2 linked regions of the Homo sapiens genome follow. The protein of the gene in region 2 interacts with the protein of the main gene of each other region in a biochemical or structural test. Each region holds a gene or a part of one and is shown on either strand. Other genes may lie near its edges.

Region 1 (7,026 bases), on a different chromosome or scaffold from region 2:
GAGGTGGAGGTTGCAGTGAGCCAAGATTGCACCACTGCACTCCAGCCTGGAAGACAGAGCAAGACTCCATCTCAAAAAAAAAAAAAGGTCAGGGTCTCTCTGTCTCCCAGGCTGGAGTGCAGTGGTGTAGTCATGGCTCACTGCAGGCTTAAACAAGAGTCACCTTTTTCTAGTTCACCCACAATCACCCTGTGGCCTCGCTGCAGCCTTCCTCTCTCTGCTTCCTCCTCTTCTGGTCCCCAACACTCCCCTCACCTCAGCAGGCGGGAGGCAATGTCTGCACTGATGGGCTGGGCTGGGATGCTGGGAAGGCCTGATGATGCAACTGGAGGGAACTGGGTTTGATTGAAGGAAGGGAAGCCAGGTGTGTAGGGGTCTCCAGTTCCCAGGTGCACCTGCAGGGAAAGGGGTGCCCACGCAAAGCTGCGAGCTGGGCTTCCAGGAAAAACGAAAAACATGCCAGCCCTATTCTGAGCAAGAAGGTGTGGCCTCGGGACCTGGGAACAGCACGACCAGCCTCCCCAGACTCACATGTCCATACACTGCCTGCTGGCTGGACAGGCTTGGCTTGGGTGGGTCCTGGGAGAAGTCCGCTGGCTCTGGGTATATGAGCACTCCTTGAGCCCCGAAGTCCTGAGCATTGGTCACCTGGGGAGGAAGGTGACTAGAGGACTCCTCCCAGAAAAAAACCCGATTCATAAGGGCAGGAGAAACCAGGAAATGGCAAGGCCTTTGCTTGCAACTGTCCATCCCACGGAGAGGATGTGGGGGCACTACCTGGCCTGTGTCTTCCCAACCTCAGCAGCTCCTAGGCAGCCCTCAAACCCCACCGGGCTCCAGGGTACCCCATGTTTCTGTTCCCTTCCCCATCTGATTTCCCCCAACACCCAATTTGTTCCCAGCCAACATTTTCTTTTTTCCTTCTGATTCAATTCCCAGACCAGCCAACATTTTCCTTCCTTCCTTCCTCCCTCCCTCCCTCCCTTCTCTGTTTCTCTCTCTTTTTTTTTTTTTTCTTTTTGAGACAGAGTCTCTCTTGCCCAGGCTGGAGTGCAGTGGCGCGATCATAGCTCACTGCAGCCTGGCACTCCTGGGCTCAAGCGATCCTCCCACCGGAGCCTCCGGAGTAGCTGGGACCACATGCATGTGCCACCAGCCCAGCTAACTAAAAAAAAAAAAAAAAGAACCTTTTTTTTTTTTTTTTTTTTTAGTAGAGAGGGGGTTCTCACCGTGTTGCCTTGAATTCCTGGCCTCAAGCGATCCTCCTGTCTTGGCCTCCTAAAGTGCTGGGATTGCAGGTGAGAACCATCGTGCCCAGCTTATATTTTCTTACCATCCAGCCACATGGTTCTTTCCTGTCTCCCTCTCACAGCACCCTGAACGATTCTCACTGGCAGTCCGACCCTCCGGTTCCCGGGCTCAAGCCCTCCCTCTGTCCAGGGACACTTACCTTCTGGGCGAAGCTGATCACCCCCACGCGCACCAGCAGCAGGCGGCCCACTGGATCCACGCCCCTGGCCCGCAGGTCCTGCAGGTCTTCGGGCCGCCCGTAGTGGGCGTACACCAGCTCTCCCTGGGGACACGAGGACGGTGAGGCGCGCTCCCCGCGTCCCTCCTTCGAGACCCAGGAAAGGGCTCGTGCCGCGCCCCATCCTAGGAGCGGGCAGGGGGTGCTCACCGTGACGTTGCCGATGGCGCTGTAGGGGCAGTAGACGTCAGGGTCCTCCAGCGGCAGCTGCTCTCCGACCTTCCCGGCCTCATCGACCCAGTGCAGGGTGTTGGGGTGAGCCCTGGGGAGCGGGGCTGGTGAGCGCCCCGAGCCGCGTCCCCCTCCCCGCGCGCCCCCCGCCCGCGCGCGCACTCACGGATCCGGGAATTGCAGCCCCACGTAGTGCGTGTCGGTCCACACGTGGTCCAGCTTCTGGCGGGAGAGCGCCGCGCGAATGTCCTGAGTCAGAGCGGCCATCCCGGCCGAGCCTGCCACCCGTTCCCGAAGGCTGGTTTGCCTAAGCGGGGAGAGGTGGGGACTTTTCTGGGCGCCCGGAGGAGAGGGAGGGAAGAGGGAAGGATGCCAGAGACGTGGGGTCGCCAGGGGCAGGGGCGGCGAGGGGTTCCTGAGTTTAGGAAAAGAGCGCTCCCCGCGGACGCTTTTTTTTTTTTTTTTTTTTTTTTTTTTGAGACGGAGTGTCGCTCTGTCGCCCAGGCTGGAGTGCAGTGGACCAATCTCGGCTCTCTGCAACTTCCGCCTTCCTGGTTCAAGCCATTTTCCTGCCTCGGCCTCCCTCGTATCAGGGATTACAGGCACGTGCCATCACGCCCGGCTAATTTTTGTATTTTTAGTAGAGACGGGTTTCACCATGTTGACCAGGTTGGTCTCAAACTCCTGATCTCAGGTGATCTGCCCGCCTCGGCCTCCCAAAGTGCTGGCATTACAGGCGCGAGCCGCAGTGCAGGGCCCTCCGCGGACCCATTTTCTCCCATCACCACCAGGGCGGCGCCGGAGACTCTCAGGACCTCACTCTGCTTAAAACCTGACTTCCCATAGCTGGGGGTCCTGCCCATCATCCTGTAGGTTCTTCCCGGCTCAAGCCAAACTCTCTCCCCCAACCTCGTTCCTCCCGACGTCAACACACACACACACACACACACACACACACACACACACACACAGCACCCAAACACTTTCCTTCGAAAGAGCTAACTGGGCAGGCAGCAGACCCTCCTCATCTCCCCCATCCTCCACGTGGGCCTCATGGAGACACTTTACACCAAGGTACTCAGGGGAATCACCGGTTCCTGGGCTCAAGCCATCCTCCCGCCTCAGCCTCCTGAGCAGCTGGGACTACAGGTGTACGCCACCAACCGCTGATTTTTAAAAATTTTTTGTAGACGAGAAGTCTTGCTGTGTTTCCCAAGCTGGTCTTGAACTCCTGGCCTCAAGCGATCCTCCCAAAGTGCTGGGACTACAGGCATGAACCATGACGACCCGCCCCATATGTGTATTTAAAGCTACACATCAAAAGCGTGAGATAAGGTGCTTATGGGGAGGGGAGTGGGGAGGATCACTCAGGGATGAGGCAGGAAAATTCAATTCAAAACAGTTAAAGTAGCCAGTAAGGCCCTTTAGGGCCTGAGCTACATCCACCTCACCGGCCACATGGACCATCTTTCCCTTCCTCCAAGAGGCCACCATCTTCACATTTCAGACCCTTCGCAAATGGTGAATCTCAGCCTGAATGTTTTTCCACAGTCTCTTTGCCTGGCAAATTACTCATCTTGGCAGTTTAGACTCGTCAGTTCCTCAACGAAGCCTTCCCTGAACTGCAATCTAAATCAGGATCCTGGTTATAGTCTTTCTTTACACACTTTTCTTTTCTTTTTTCTTTCTTTCTTTCTTTTTTTTTTTGAGACGGAGTCTCGCTCTGTCGCCCAGGCTGGTGTGTAGTCGTGCAATCTCAGCTCACTGCAACCTCTGCCTCCTGGGTACAAGTGATTCTCCTGCCTCAGCCTCCTGAGTAGCTAGGACCACAGGCGCCTACCACCACACTCAGCTAGTTTTGTATTTTTTTAGTAGAGACAGGGTTTCGGCATGTCGGCTAGGCTGGTCTCAAACTCCTGGCCTCAGGCAATCAGCCCACCTTCACCTCCCAAAATGCTGGGATTACAGGTATGAGCCATGGCGCCCGGCCCCTTTTCTTTTCTTTTTTTGGAGATAGGGTCTCACTCTGTCACCCAGCCTGGAGTGCAGTGGCATGACCATAGCTCACTGCAACCTTCAGCTCCTAAGCTCAAGCCATCCTCCTGCCTCAGCCTCCTGAATAGCCGGGACTCTAGGCATGCACCACCATACTGGGCTAATTTTTTATTTTTCTTTTTTAAAAAATTATTATTATTATTATTATTATTATTTTTGACATGGAGTTTCACTCTTGTTGCCCAAGCTGGAATGCAATGGCGCAATCTTGGCTCACTGCAACCTCCACCTCCCAGGTTCAAACAATTCTCCTGCCTCAGCCTCCCAAGTAGCTGGGATTATAGGTGCCCGCCAACATGCCCAGCTAATTTTTTTTGTATTTTTAGTAGAGCCTAAAAAGGGTGAAACAGTGTTTCACCATGTTGGCCAGGCTGGTCTCGAACTCCTGTCCTCAGGAGATCCACCTGCCTTGGCCTCCCAAAGTGCTGGGATTACAGGTGTGAGCCACCGTGCCTGGTCAAATTATTATTATTTTTTTAAGAGACAGGATCTCTCTATGTTGCCCAGGCTGGTCTCAAACTGGGCTCAAGAGATCCTCCCACCTCAGCCTCCCAAAGTGCTGGGCTCACAGGTGTGAGCCACCACACTGAGCCTCACATCCTTTGCTTTTCTTTCAAAGCAATGATTCCAGTCATAATTATGTAGTCGTGAATGATTGTTAGTTTAGTATTGGTTTTCTCCAGTGGATTGTAAGCACCATGAGAACAAAGTTAGACTGTTTTAGTCTCTATCTCACCACCACCTGCTTAGCTTAGTACCTGCCACGTAGTAGATGCCCCAAAATACTTGTTGGATAAATGAATTAATTACTTCATCATTGTCACCTCCAGTCCAGGCACTCCACTTCCCTGGTCACACCCTGCATCTTTTTTTTTTTTTTTTTTTTTTTGAGATGGAGTCTTGCTCTGTTTCACAGGCTGGAGTGCATTGGTGCGATCTCAGCTCACTGCAACCTCTGCCTCCCAGTTTCAAGTGATTCTCCTGCCTCAGCCTCCCGAGTAGCTGGGATTACAGGCATGCACCATCACACCCAGTTAATTTTTGTATTTTTAGTAGAGACAGGATTTCACCATGTTGGCCAGGCTGGTCTCAAACTCCTGACCTCAGATGATCCACCTGCCTTGACCTCCCAAAGTGCTGGGATTACAGGCGTGAGCCACTGTGCCTGGCCCGTATCCTGCATCTTGTCATTACCCGCACTCCATCTCTGGAATACTTATCCATTGAGGATCTACTGAACATCTAGTAAGTGCCAGGCATTGTGGTAGGTGCTGGAGACTCTGAGATAGACAGGATATATTGTATCAGGAAGTTTTCAAGGATCCAGAATCCTACTCTCTGAGTAGACCCTGTCAGGTTCCAACTCCCCCAGTTATCCTCGCTGTACCTGCTCTTCAACCCCATTGAACATGACAAATGTCCTATAGCTCCACATGTATCATCTCCCCCCACTTTCTCTTCCCTCTCCATCCCACCGAGAGCCATGTTTCACTCTTGTTGCCCAGGCTGGAATGCAATGGCGCGATCTCGGCTCACTGCAACATCCTTGCTCTCTCCCCAAAACTGCTACTTTTGCCTCAGTGCCACACCCCGCTTCTAGACCTGTCAAACTATCTACCTGCTCAGCCTGTACCCAGATGACCAAATACTGCTCAAAAAAATAAAAGTAGCCCTGAACAGGCTGGGCACCATGGCTTACGCCTGTAATCCAAGAAATTTGGGAGGCCAAGGTAGGAGGATTGCTTGAGCCCAGGAGTTCGAAACCAGCCTGGCCAACATGATGAAACCCTGTCCCTAAAAAAAATACATAAATTGCCGGGCGCAGTGGCTCACACCTGTAATCCCAGCACTTTGGGAGGCCGAGGTGGGTGGATCTCCTGAGGTCAGGAGTTCGAGACCAGACTGACCAACATGGAGAAACCCCATCTCCACTAAAAATACAAAATTAGCTGGGTGTCGTGGCGCATGACTGTAATCCCAGCTACTCGGGGAGCTGAGGCAGGAGAATCGCTTGAACCCGGGAGGCGGAGTTTGCAGTGAGCCAAGATCGTGCCATTGCTCTCCAGCCTGGGCAACAAGAGTGAAACTCTGTCTCACAAAAAAAAAGAAAAAAACAAAAAACAAACAAAAAAATCATAAATTAGCTGGGCATGGTGGCTCACGCCTGTAGTCCCAGCTACTTGGGAAGCTGAGGCACAAAAATCACCTGAAGCCGGGAGGCGGAGGTTACAGTGAGCTAAGATCATGCCACTGTACTCCAGCTTGGGCAACAGAGTGAGAATTGGTTGCAAATATATAAAAATAAATAAATCCTGTCCCTAAATAATAATAATAATTTTGAAAAAAGAAAAATGAAAAATTAGCTGGGCGTGGTGGCCCCTCCCTGTAGACCCAGCTACTCAGGAGGCTGAGATGGGAGAATCACCTGAGCTTGGGAAATCGAGGCTGCAGTGAGCCCAGATTGCACCACTGCATTCTAGCCTAGGTGACAGAGCAAGGCCCTGTCTCAAAAAAAAATTAATGTAATTTAATTTTTTTTTTTTTGAGATGGAGTTTCACTCTTGTTGCCCAGGCTGGAGTGCAATGGCACGACGTTGACTCACCGCAACCTCCGCCTCCTGGGTTTAAGCGATTCTCCTGCTTCAGCCTCCCGAGTAGCTGGGATTACAGGCATGCGCCACTACGCCCGGCTAATTTTGTATTTGTTTTGTTTTTTTGAGACAGAGTCTTGCTCTGTCGCCCAGGCTGGAGTGCAGTGGCGCGATCTCGGTTCACTGCAAGCTCCGCCTCCCGGGTTCATGCCATTCTCCTGCCTCAGCCTCCCAAGTAGCTGGGACTATAGGTGCCCGCCACCACGCCCAGCTAATTTTTTGTGTTTTTAGTAGAAACGGGGTTTCACCATGTTAGCCAGGATAGTCTCGATCTCCTGACCTCATGATCTGCCCACCTCGGCCTCCCAAAGTGCTGGGATTACAGGTGTGAGCCACCATGCCTGACCTGTAATTTAATTTAAAAGCCCTGAGCAGGCTGGGTGCGGTACCTCATTCCTATAATCCCAGCATTTTGGGAGGCTGAGGTGGGAGGATTGTTTGAGGCCAGTAGTTTGAGACCATCCTGGGCAACATAGGGAGACCTCGTTTCTACTAAAAAAAATTAAAAATTAGGCTGGGCATGGTGGCTCATGCCTGTAATCCCTGCACTTTGGGAGGCCGTGGTGGGTGGATCATCTGAGGTCAGGAGTTTGAGACCAGTCTGCCCAACATGGTGAAACC
Region 2 (7,026 bases):
CCTGTCATACATGCCGGGCTTAGATTGTTCACTCACCATTTCATTTTGTCCATGTTGTCCTATCCCAAGGGCCACAGCCTACCCCTCCTGTACCCACCCACCATCCCAGCACTCACCACCATGTTTGGTTGCCACTTCCCCATGCTGTTCCTCCTACTCACATGAGGTGGAGCATTTTCTCAGGTTACCAACAGCCTTGACATATTCTTCTCCTAAGTATTTTTCATATGTGTTTCTGTCATGAAGTTTGGCCAAACATACTGTGTCATCTCTGAACAGAAGGTCCTTGGTTTCCGACCGGAACAAACAAAAGTTGCCCGAGCAGTCAGTTACGTTGCTTCCAAATAGGTGCTGTCAAGTGAACAGAAAGTCCGTGAGGACCTTGTGGTCTTTAGCAGCTGGGAACACATGGATGAGAAGAGTCTGAAAGCTCTGAACCAGCCCTGGGGAAAAAGGGAAGCTACGGAGTATGTCTTGGGAATTTTCCACCTCCTTTATCTGCCATTTATCCACTTAGGGCCCCAGCTGCATGCTTTCATGATGCCCCCAAAATCATCTATAGGGTCCCTGGTCCCACCTTCCTCTGATAAGTCCCTCCCACCCACACCCATGCCTGCCTACTCTGACCTCTCTTCCCCACTTCATTGCCCTTCACTGGGGGCTGCTTATAGGAAATGAGAGGACAATAACATGTCCCTTCAGATGTTATTGTCAAAGAAGATGTTAAATGTGAACCCTCCCAGAGGAGTGGCAGAGGTAGTTCTTAAAAGTTCATGTTTGACTGCATTTTGAATCCTTTCTTGGGCAAGCCACTCAGCTTCTCCAGATCTCCAAAGGTTGTAAGTGAAATGATGACTGCAAAATGTTGAACTTTCCATATAGCAGCTAGGAAATGTATGTTAAATGCTTATTATTGTCATGTACCTTAAAAGGACTTCAAATATACTCTTATTTTTTTTAAAAAAAGGTAATGGTGAATCAACAGCAGGCAGCTATGCCCAAAAGGAAGGTGATGTGTGTGTGTGGAGGGGCCTTTAGGATTAGAATACTCAGGCAGCCCCTGTCTTCAACAAGGCTGGCCCTGAGTGGTTGTTCCCCCAGAGGGCAGGCTCTCCGAGGGCAAGGGTCCTGTGTTTTTCAGACTGTTGAGAACAGTGCTCAGTCTGCCTAGGCAAGAGGAACAGAAATCCACTCTTCATGACTCGTATCAACAAGCGCTGGGAAACAGGAGCTGTCTTCTTCATTTTCGGGAAGGACAGGAGTAGGGGAAATGAGGGTACCCCTGAACAAGGTTAGGGGGAGCAGAAAGGCAGATTCCTAGTCCCAAGAGTACATGGATCAGATCTAATCACCAGTGACCAGGAGCTAGAAGCAGAGCTGGGCCTGAGAGGTCTAGTTCCATAATTACACAGCTAACATATTTTGAGCACGTCCTATAGGAAATGGAATTTTCCTATGCCGTTTGGGTGCATGTCTTCACTTAATACTCATGTTAACTGAGAAGTAGGTAAAAATATTATTATTACAATTTTATATATGAGGAAGCTGAGGCATAGAGAGGTTATGTAACATACCCAAGATGGCACAACTAGGAAGCTGTGGAGCTGTGATTTGAACCCTGATACTCTAGTCCACAATGCATGGCATGAAATGCACAATGCATGGAATTCTAGTTTTCAAAAAGAAAGTGCTGGAGTCATGGCTGCACTTTGTTGTAAACTCCCCCCGAATAGCCTATGGCCATCTAGGAAGAAAAGGTGGGAGGACCTGGCTGGTCCATACCTGCTGTTGACGTAATATCTTGTGGACGCAAGCTTCCTTATCTTTCCGTGTGACCACAGCGTGATTCGGGGCTCTGGCCAGGTGGCAGTTCGCATACTCCTCCACAGGTTTCCTGGTACCATCAAGGCACAGCAACTCATAGTCTTTTTCATTCAGATTCTTAGCCCATGGATCAGGGTTTTTTCCTAGGGACAGGAAGAAGGTGGTTCAGCTGATGGCTTTGGTCAAGGTGCCCCGCTGGGGAGATGGAACTGACTCAGTGGTGTGTAGAGAACCTGGGCCTTCTCGCCAGCAGAAGTGCCCACACTGGGGTTACAGTGATGTGGACAGGAAGAGACACCCATGTGGTCTACAAGGTGATGCCAGACTCACAGTGACCAGGAATGATTATTGACCATCCCCTTCCAACCTTCCCTACCCAGCCAGGTGAGAATGAACTACATTCTGCAGATGCTGTTCAAAAAGATCTTCAATTCCACTAAATTCCAATTCCTTCTGTACCTCTTGCTCCAACAGAGGAAGAATGTGACGCTCTAAGCCAGGTTGATCAATTTCTGTGCTGTAACACATGGCATCTCCAAACAAAAGAACTTTTCCTCAGAGAACACCTTTGGAATCTGCACCAGAATTTTAAATCTGACTCCCTTGTTCCAGTTCTAAATGAGAATGTGCACACACCTGTGTGATACAGGTCTGTATCCCATCTCGGCCCCTTTGCCTCTTCTTTTCTGTATTGTCTCTGAAAAAAAAAAAAAACTCACCCATTCTTAGGGTTTCAGCTCCTTCCTCCTGAGCCACTTTGCAAATATGTTTTGCTAATTTTTATTTCTCTCCCATAATTCAGAATTGCAACCTTTTTAAAAATGTATTTTTCATTTAATTTTGTTTCTTTAACCGAATAACTAATACATGAGATCACACTCATAAATTTTTGAATATCTCTCTATATTAACTAAAAGCCTCCTTTCCTATACTCTCCAAATCTCACTCAGTCTTATAGTGCTAGTCTTTAATATCACATTTGCGAGTTTCCATCCACGGCTCATTATATGTATTTTTCTACGTGTGTATATGGATTTCACATGTTTCTAATTTTGTTTAGTGTTAGATCTTGACAAATGTAAAACTCTGTAGCTTTTTTTTCAACTGTTTACATACCTTATAGATTCTTCTTGTCAGTACATACAAATCAAGCTCGTTCTTCTTAACTACTGTATTATATTTCATAGTGTGGCTATAATAGTATCTTTAAACCATTCCTCTTTTAATAGGCATCTGAGGTGTTTACAATTTTTTGCCACTAAAGTAGCGTTAAAATGAGTGTTACTGGCATATAATTGTGCTTACATAGAAGTGGAATAGTTAGTTCAAAGGGTATATGTATTTTTATTTTATTTTATGTTATTTTATTCATTTATCTATGATACTATGTTCTCAGCCCTCTCCAAGGCACAATCTTATTGGAGGGGAAAATAACACACATACCAAAACAAAAAATTCAGGGCAGGGATAATAATATTTTATATTTTGTAAAACACTCTAGATGCTGTGTGAGCTCAAACCAGGGCTTTGAGAACAAATGAATTAAGAAGCTGGCTGGAGGAGGCAAGATTTCAGTTGTCTCTTATAGTGTGTGTAGGATGAGAGGAGGAGAAAGGAATGCCTCTCTGCGGGAGGAAAGGAGAGTGCAGGCGAGACTGGGGGCAGGTGTGTGCCTGGTGTTTCTAAGGGAGAGAGGAGACCGCCTCTGGAACCATCTCAGGCAGTAGGGTATGTGAGGCACTCAGGCAAGAGGAAAAGTGGGTTTGTGAGGACTTATGAATGGAAATTGATGTTAATGAATGAGCCAGAACCTAAAGGTAGAAAATTAAGAAAAATCAAATGGGAGGTGATTCAGTCTGGCTAGGAGGGCATCTAGAAGGGCATGTTAAAAATATGCTTTTTCAATAAAAATAATACACGTTTATTGGTGGAAATTTATAAAATGCCACGTAAGTATTGGGAAGAAAATTTTGAAGCATTTGTAATTTCATAGTCTACGCCTTCAAAATTGGTACATTTCTAACATTCTTTTTCCTACACACACCTATAATATGCACATACACACACACACACACACACACACACACACAAATTGTGATAAAAGAGCCCATGTGGGCTGAGCGCGGTGGGTCACACCTGTAATCCCAGCACTTTTGAGAGGCCGAGGTGGGCGGATCATGAGGCCAAGAGATGGAGACCATCCTGGCCAACATGGTGAAACCCCGTCTCTACTAAAAATACAAAAATTAGCTGGTCGTGGTGGTGCACGCCTGTAGTCCCAGCTACTTGGGAGGCTGAGGCAGGAGAATCACTTAAATCTGGGAGGCGGAGTTTGCAGTGAGCTGAGATCACATCACTGCACTCCAGCCTAGCAACAAAGTGAGACTCCATCTCAAAAAGAAAAAAAAGAAAAAAAAAAAGCCCACGTGGTTTTGTGTCTTCCTTCTTGTATATACCATAGCACTTAAGACAGATTTTGGAGGAGGGAGAGAGGGGGGCAAGAGTTGAAAAGCTACCTGTTGTGTGCTATGCTCACTACCTGGGTGACAGGTTCAATCATACCGCAAACCTCAGCATCATGCAGTATACCATGTAACAAACCTGCATATGTACCCTCAATCTAAAATATAAGTTGAAAAAGCAACAAATTAATAACAGAAGAAGGTAAGAAGGTGCAAAATATAAGTATGATGAATCAGACATGATGTGACTTACATTTAGTAATATTTATCAGGAATGTGATATTAAGTCAGGGGTATTAGACCAGTAGTTCCCAAACTTACAATACATCAAAATTACTTTGGCTCTTAAAAATCATGTTGTCTACCTTAAATACACACAATTATTTCAAAATTTAGTTTGAAAAAAGACACGTTTTGAAGAAATAAGATATTGACTGACAGACTTAATCTAGGCCTGATGGGCAGGGAGTATAGCAGGATTCTCTATAAGGATAGAGGCTGGGAGAAGAGGAGGGAACGTTGACAGAAAGATGAGGACAGTTGAGTTGTATATGGATTGTATATATACAACTACAATATATGAGGACATCCATATACACACGTAAAAAAATACAATTGCAATGCCAATGTACTCTCTACATAAAAGTGACACCTTGGGAAATAGACTGGAATGGAATTGAGATTGGATGTCAGGCCTCCTATCTTAATTCTATGCAGGAGGGAAGAATTTTTGAGTCATTGCAAAGAGTAAGAGAGTCAAAGCTTAAAGAAGGGAGCTCTACTCAGAAAAGTACCAAAAGAAATCAAGGGTGGCAAAGAGCCAAGCTTAGGGTAACACTCTCTTAAAGGAAAAAGCAATAATACGAGGGAAGAAAGGAAAATTAGTCAACCCAATATTTCTGCAAACAAATTCTTAGCAACTGCTGTGTACTATGTGCTACACTAGGTTCTGGGAATATAAGATGAAGAAAAAGAGCTCAAAGAGTTTCTGTAGCCAAAGTGTATTACAGAGTGTGGTGAATTCAATCATAATGGCAATATGAACAGAGGAGTCTTCTTGTAGGACAGGGTATGCCATCTGGGAAGGCTTCCTGGAGGGGCTGGTGCTGAGCCGGTTCATTCTGGATGAGTTGCCCAGGAAAAGTGAGGAGTTGGGGAATGAACATGAGAGAAGGCAGGGAAGTATTCACAGCTTGAATTCCAGTGGGCTCTGCTAGCACTTAGTGATACTGAGGGGTCAGGTGTGGAGTGCTCAGTCTGGCCAATGTTTGTTTTGCTTTGTTTTGTTTGTTTTTATTAATATTATGGCTGTCCAACGTTCACCCACAAGTTAACACCCATTGATTCTTTTTTTTTTTTTTTTTTTTTTTGAGACGGAGTCTCGCTCTGTCGCCCAGGCCGGACTGCGGACTGCAGTGGCGCAATCTCGGCTCACTGCAAGCTCCGCTTCCCAGGTTCACGCCATTCTCCTGCCTCAGCCTCCCGAGTAGCTGGGACTACAGGCGCCCACCACCGCGCCCGGCTAATTTTTTGTATTTTTAGTAGAGACGGGGTTTCACCTTGTTGGCCAGGATGGTCTCGATCTCCTGACCTCATGATCCACCCGCCTCGGCCTCCCAAAGTTCTGGGATTACAGGCGTGAGCCACTGCGCCCGGCTTAACACCCATTGATTCTTGCTTGAATCAGTTATCAATATATTGGTTGCCAAGTGATAGTTTTCTAACTCTATCATTCCTTCCACATTGATTAGTTTTCCCTTCTTCATTTGTTTAATCAGTATTGCCTCATGCATTCTTATTTCTTTCAATGGGCTATTATCCCTTACTGCTATCATTATTTATTTTAATGCTCAAAATTCCCAGACTTGGCAACAGGAGATCCTTCAAATTGGTTCTTGTATGCTTTGAGTGTCCCATCACTGTTTGAGCACTTCAGTGTGTTGTTCTAGGCTCAGCATCTATTTTTCCTGCCCCAGCCCTGAAGTCAGCTATTTTTCCAAGGAGTTCTGGTTCCTTTTAGTAAAGAAGAGTACTTACAAGCCAATATCTTGGTGCTTACTCCTGCTGGTATGCCATTGCCTCTAGGCCTTCTCAATGGACACAACCCAGAAGTACAGTAAATAGCTATAAAAGGCATTACTGGGATAACTGACAACAGTTAAATGTGGACTGTGGACGTGACGAGTATTAAATCCACATAATGTAAAAGATCCTGATCTTGGTAATCATACTGTGGGTATGCAAGAGATTGTCTTATTCTTAGGAAATAGGCACTGAAGTATTTAGGGGAAAGGAGCACAAGGCTTGCAGCTGTGGGAGTGTGTGTTGGGGAGGATTTAGGGCCATTGGGGGCCCCATAATCCTGATCATTCTGCGCACTCAGGTGAACATGTCTCTCTTCACTGAGCAGACAGACTGAGAATCAGAGCTTTGAAGTCTGACAGTGTACATAATACTTCCACAAAGGCATCCCTGAATACAAGTGAATACCAGTGACCAGGATCTAGTGATCTAGGGGGACAGAGGAGCAGGTGCACTTACCCCCAGTGTTCTGTGGGACAGTCTGGTGTTTCACAAAGGCCACATCTCCCTTCTCAACCAGACACCTGCAGAGGTCCAGAAGTGGGAGAGAAAAAAAAAGGCGGTCAGAGTGACTTATCTGTCATTCAGGGGGCTACCTTATAGATTCAGGACAGCCATCTGAAAACAGCAACTGTAACTTCCATTCTAACAGTAAGCA

The links.
Region 1: the proteins of TF (region 2) and TFR2 form a complex in vitro, tested with the Homo sapiens proteins (one study listed by BioGRID).

Annotation. Positions count from the first base shown.
Region 1 is NC_000007.14:100,631,551-100,638,576, forward strand, and holds part of TFR2 (transferrin receptor protein 2), read right to left. Parts: intron 2,101-7,026; exon of another isoform or gene 2,007-2,100; coding exon 1,866-2,006; intron 1,791-1,865; coding exon 1,679-1,790; intron 1,574-1,678; coding exon 1,451-1,573; exon of another isoform or gene 1,373-1,450; intron 649-1,372; coding exon 532-648; intron 396-531; coding exon 256-395; intron 1-255. UniProt on the Homo sapiens protein: Mediates cellular uptake of transferrin-bound iron in a non-iron dependent manner. May be involved in iron metabolism, hepatocyte function and erythrocyte differentiation.
Region 2 is NC_000003.12:133,770,374-133,777,399, reverse strand, and holds part of TF (serotransferrin isoform 1 precursor), read right to left. Parts: intron 6,893-7,026; coding exon 6,828-6,892; intron 1,968-6,827; coding exon 1,783-1,967; intron 352-1,782; coding exon 162-351; intron 1-161. UniProt on the Homo sapiens protein: Transferrins are iron binding transport proteins which can bind two Fe(3+) ions in association with the binding of an anion, usually bicarbonate.